Linked DNA regions of Homo sapiens: region 1 is linked to region 2. The links come from fine-mapping of genetic effects on gene expression. A gene starts in region 2. The other region holds a variant in brackets. All regions are shown on one strand. Distances are from middle to middle.

Evidence for each region. PIP is the estimated chance that this variant, and not a neighbour inherited with it, causes the effect.
Region 1: its variant is the best candidate, but not a certain one, in a credible set for the expression of TIA1 in whole blood (TOPMed, PIP 0.71).

The regions. Positions count from the first base shown.
Region 1 is chr2:70,017,084-70,019,998 of GRCh38, forward strand. All of the region lies in intron 7 of PCBP1-AS1 (PCBP1 antisense RNA 1), which reads right to left. It also overlaps a transcript of ASPRV1 not described here. Among named protein-coding and RNA genes, the nearest start is that of ASPRV1, 57 kb to the left of the region's middle. The variant A/C (reference allele first, on the strand shown) is at 1,527.
Region 2 is chr2:70,247,108-70,250,022 of GRCh38, forward strand. It overlaps TIA1 (TIA1 cytotoxic granule associated RNA binding protein), which reads right to left and starts at 1,521. Exons shown (of 13, transcript NM_022173.4): 1 at 1,298-1,521. The coding sequence starts at 1,323. TRG-CCC2-1 (tRNA-Gly (anticodon CCC) 2-1) reads right to left here and starts at 1,954; the gene lies at 1,884-1,954. RefSeq lists enhancers at 287-1,102, 1,103-1,917.

The DNA of each region.
Region 1 (2,915 bases), 230 kb before region 2:
GGGTTCATGCCATTCTCCTGCCTCAGCCTCCCAAGTAGCTGGGACTACAGGTGCCCACCACCATGCCTGGCTAATTTTTTTGTATTTTTAGTAGAGACAGGGTTTCACCATGTTAGCCAGGATGGTCTCCATCTCCTGATCTTGTGATCTGCCCACCTCAGCCTCCCAAAGTGCTGGGATTACAGGCGTGAGCCACCACGCCCAACCTGATCATCTCAATTGATGGAGAAAGGTATTCAACAAAATTAAACATCCTTTCATGATTAAAAACTCTCAATAAATTAGGCACAGAAGGAATGGACCTCAACACAGTAAGGGTCATGTACGATAAGCCCACAGCTAACATCATATTGAATAGTGAAAATTGAAAGTTTTTTTCGTAAGATTAGTAATAAGACAAGAATGCTTATTTCAGACACTTCTATTGAAAACAGTATTGGAAATCCTAGCCAGAACAATTAGTCAAGAGAAAGAAATAAAATTTGTCCAAATCGCAAAGGAAAAAGTTAAATTGTCTGTCTGTTGATGACATGATCTTTAGATAGACAATAGTAAAGACTCACCAAAAAACTGTTAGAACTGATAAACATATTCAGTAAAGTTGCAGGATACAAAATCAACATGCATTTGCTTGTCTGTTAGTATTTTTTTAAAAAAAAGAAACAAAATCAACATGCAAAATTCAGTAGTGTTTATATACAATAACAACGAACTATCAAAAAAATGAAGAAAACAATCTCATTTACAATAGCTATTTAAAAATACTTCGGAATAGGCTGGGCGCAGTGGCTCGCACCTGCAATCCCAGCACTTTGGGAGGCCAAGGTGGGAGGATCGCCTGAGCTCAGGAATTTGAGACCACACTGGGCAACATGGTGAAACCCCATCTCTACTAAAATACAAAAAATTAGCCAGGTGTCATAGTGCGTACCTGTAGTCCCGGCTACTCAGGAGGCTGAGGCACGAGAATCACTTGATCCCAGGAGGCGGAGGTTGCAGTGAGTCGAGATCACGCCACTCCAGCTTGGGCTACAGAGTGAGACTCCACCTCAAAAATAAATAAATAAATAAAATAAAATAAAATAAAATAAAATAAATGAATAAAAAATACTTAGGAATAAATTTAATCAAGGAAATGAAAGATCTGTACATGGAAAACACTGTTGAAACACTGACGAAAGAAACTGAAGAGGACACACACAAAACATGGAAAGATATGCTGTGTCCACGGTTTGGAAGAATTAATATTAAAATGCTCATACTACCCAAAATGACCTACAGATTCAAAGCAATCTCTATCAAAATACTAATAAAATTCTTCACAAAAATTGAAAAAACAACTCTGAAATTCCTATGGAACCACAAAAGACCCCAAATAGCCAAAGCAATCTGCAGCAAAAAGAACAAGGCTAGAGGTATCATACTGTCTGTCTCCAAAATATACTACAAAGCTGTAGTAACCAAAACAGCATGGTACCACCAAAAAACAGACACATAGACTAAAGGAACAAAATAAAGAACCCAGA[A/C]ATAAATCTATGTATTTACAGTCAACTGATTTTCAACAAAGGTCCCAAGAACACACACTGGGGAAAGGACAGCCTACTCAATAAATGGTGCTGGAAAAACTGGATATTCAAATACAGAAGAATGAAATTAGATGTTCATTTCACACCATATACAAAAATCAAATAAAAGTGGATTAAAGACAAACATAAGACCTGAAACTGTAACACTACTAGAAGAAAGCATAGGGAAAAAGCTTCATGACATTGGTCTGGGCAAAAATTTTGGATATGACTCCAAAAGCTCAGGCAACAAAAGCAAAATAGGATTACATCAAACTGAAACCCTTCCACACAGTAAAGGAAACAATACAGTGAAGAGAGAACTTACAGAGTGAGAGAATACATTTGCAAACCATGTATCTGAGAAGGGGTTGTTATGATCTAAAGTGTAGATAAGAAACTCAAACAACTCAGTAGGAAGAAAACAAATAACCAGAGTTTTAAAATGATCAAAGGACTTGAACAGACATTTCCCAAAATACGACATACAAATGGCCAACAGGAATCTGAAAAGGTGCTGAACTGCACTAATCACCAGAGAAATGCAATTCAAAACAATGACATATCACCTCACTCTTGTTAGAATGGCTATTGCAAAAAAGAGGAAAGATGACAAGCATTGGCAAGGATGTTGAGAAAAGGAAACCTTTGCACATTACTGACGCAAATGTGAATTAGTACAGCCATTAAGGAAAACACTATGGTGGTTCCTCAAAAATTTAAAAGTAGAACTACCATATGATCCAGCAATACCACTACTGGGCATATATCTAAGGGAAATGAAATCAGTATGTTGAAGAGATATTCACACTCCCATATTCATTACAGCATTATTCACAATAGCCAAGATATAAAATCAATGTAAGTGTCCATCAGCAGATGAATGGATAAAGAAAATGTGGTACATATACACAATGGAGTACCATTCATCCTTTAAAAGGAAGGAAATCCTGTCGTTTGTGACAACATGAGTGAACCTGGAGGATACTATGTCAAGTGAAATAAGCCAGGTACAGAAAGACAAGTACCACATGACCTCACTTATATATGGAGTATAAAATAGTTGAACTCATAGAAATAGAGAGTAAAATGGTGGTTACCAGAGGGTGGCGGGTGGGGAGATTGGAAGGATGTTGGTCAAAGGACACAAAATTTGTTAGACAGGAGGAACAAGTTCAAGAGATCCACTGTACATCATGCTGACTACAGTTAGTAACAATATATTGTATATTTGAAAATTGCTGAGAATAAATTAAGTGGTCTTATCACAAAAAAATGGGAAGTATATGAGGCAATGCATATGTTCAATAGGTTAATTTAGCCATTCCACAATGTGTGTGTATATATATA
Region 2 (2,915 bases):
TTTTTAGGGAGTATTCATCTACAGATACAATCTTTCCTAAAACAAAGGTCATGCACTAATTGCTACGTCCTACTGAAAAGATACTTTCTGAGCCTCAGGAATAGAGAAAAGAAATTTCAAGGTTACTAACAGATTAACTGACAATCTATTAAGAAAACAAGTGTAACCACATTTCCAATATAGACAAGAAATAGCAACTTAAAAGTGGAAAAATTTTGGAGGTAAAAAAACAATTACATCGTACTTCAGAGCAACTTTATTAGAGAGCTGCAAAGAGAAACCTAAAATTGCATTTTTAATGCATGGAGCTCTCAAACTGCCAGTATTCCAAGAATATAAACAAAAAGCTATGTCATCCAAGAAAAACAAAAAGCTATGTCAAGAACTCATTGAGCTTTTCTTCTTCCGAGAAATGCCAACAAAGGCAGGATCAACTCATCCGATAATACCTCGAAAAACAAAGAACGCAGTTGGGGAAGCCACACGACAAAGAAAATATCCACGCTCCGGTAATTTAACGCTATCTCTAAAAATTCTCTGTAAATATGTTAGGGCATTTACAGCCCGCTCGTTCAACACCATGTCAATCACAACAGTAGTAAACGACTATAAAAATAATATTAAATCCATTTCCCCTCAATTGATATATTCCTTCTGGGTGAGATTTCCAAATCCTTGGGGTGTCTGGTTAGGCTTTTTGGTCGGTGGGTGCTACAGAAGGAAAGCCAGAGGTTAAAGAAAAATGCTTGGCTTTTTTCCAATTGGCAACTGCAAGAATAAAGTTTACTGCACTGAAAATGAGTACAAGCACCCTCGAGGAGGAAAAAAAATCTTATCACCGAGAAGAAAATGAAAGGAAGAATTTCAGTAGGAAATCAAAAGTAAAATTAAAGGGAGACGGCTGTAAAGATAAGAAGAGGTTAATCAAAAAGGGGGAGAAGCGGGAAAAGGAAAGAAAGCATAGGACAAAAGGAAGGTTCGACGAGTTCTAAAAAGAGGTCTGAATTAAAGTCTTTTCTCCAGGTCTAAGACCACAGAGGGCCCGTGGCGAGAGCAAAGGTCATGCAATGGTGTTGCTAAAGTGAAGGGATTAATTGAGAGGGTTGAGCCCCGTCTCCCTTCACCTCGTCCTCACAGATTGGGTCTTGGTTGTAAGCATCCAGGTGCATGCTAAGGAAACAAAAACCACGATATCGCGGTGTCCACGGAGAACAATAGGCTGGGAGCGGCGCAGGGCCGAGGCCTTCCCTCCGGGACGACCACCATCCCGCCTCCCTCATCGCTGCCCCAGACTCACAGAGTCTTGGGCATCTCGTCCTCCATGGCTGCTGCTGTCGCGGCGGCGCCTCCAGGTCCAGCTCCCTGCCCTTCACTACCTCCCAAATCGTTTAAGCGGTTATGGCTACAGGATAGTGGGGTTTCTCGGCTGACCAGAGGTTACTCCGCCTCCTCCTCCGGCGGCAATTACACTAAACCGCCCGGCCCAGCGGGAACAATGAAACCCCAATACAAGATGGCGGCGAGCCGGGAGCCTAGGAGCAGCCAGCAAAGTTACCCGGGCCGCGCAGGCGCAGAATAATCTTGCACTCTCAACCTCCGGGCCGCCCGGCTACACCTTAATCCATAGGTTCACTTGTTGCGCAGCCGCTCTTCCACCCGACGCGAGGGACGCCTCAGACTGCGCAGGCGCAAGTATTAACTACTTCACGATTTGCGTGAACTTTTTTGTCTTCTGGCTGCGGATTCGAGTGTTTCGACCGCGAATTATGAGGGAGTGGAAACCTTCAGGGACAGTAAAAAGCCTAAATCTTTCCTCTTTTGGAAAGATATATAAAGACTCTTCAAGCTATCTGGTTTTTAGCGAGCGAGAAGCAAAACGCCTATGCGCCGCCCGGGAATCGAACCCGGGTCGCAAGAATGGGAATCTTGCATGATACCACTACACCAGCGGCGCTGTTGACATGCCCAGCCGCCACAGTATTTTAGGAGGAAATAGAAGCAGACGTTCTCTCATGTGAAAAGAATTGTCATGTATTATTTATTCATTTAAAAGTAAAAGTTTATTGACAGTCTGTAATCTTCTGTTTTCCAATAACATAAATAATTTATCTTTTCTCATCCCAAACATAGGAATGGATGTTTCAACTTTCTCTGTACAGAAAAAAAATTTCAATTTAAAATGTTTACTTAAGAAATAAGAAAAAAGAAAAAAAGTTTTACTTAAAAAAGTAAGGATTTTATTAAGAATTTGCGTCGTTGGTGCTAGCCAGATTTTTCAGCGCGGGGAGGATATTTCCAGATGCCAGATTTTTATTTATATTTGCATTTCTTCCGTGTATTGATTGCACATTGAAAAGCATTTAAGAAATAGCTGTTTAGGCCGGGGGCAGTGGCTCACGCCTGTTATTCCAGCACTTTGGATGGCTGAGGCGGGCGGATCACCTGAGATCAGGAGTTCGAGACCAGCCTGACCAACATGGCGAAACCCTGTCTCTACTAAAAATACAAAAATTAGCTGGATGTGGTGGTGGGGGCCCGTAATCCCAACTACTCAGGAGGCTGAGGCAGGAGAATCCTTGAATCTGGGAGGTGGAGATTGCAGTGAGCCGAGATCTTGCCATTGCACTCCAGCCTGGGCAACAGAACGAGGATCCGTCTCAAAAAACAAACAAAGAAACAAACAAAAAACCCCAGCTATTTAATGCAAATTGGTCACAAGAATCTTAAAAGTAAACAAGTCAAAAGATACATAAACTTCAGTCCAACTTTAGGAGGCAGAGAAATTAGAGCTCTGAAATGTGATTCAGTATACTCTGTATGCATTTCACATTGCTTATTATATATATATGTCACTAAAGTAATCCTATGTCTAGGAATCTATCCTACAGAAATAAAACAATTAATTTATAAAGATT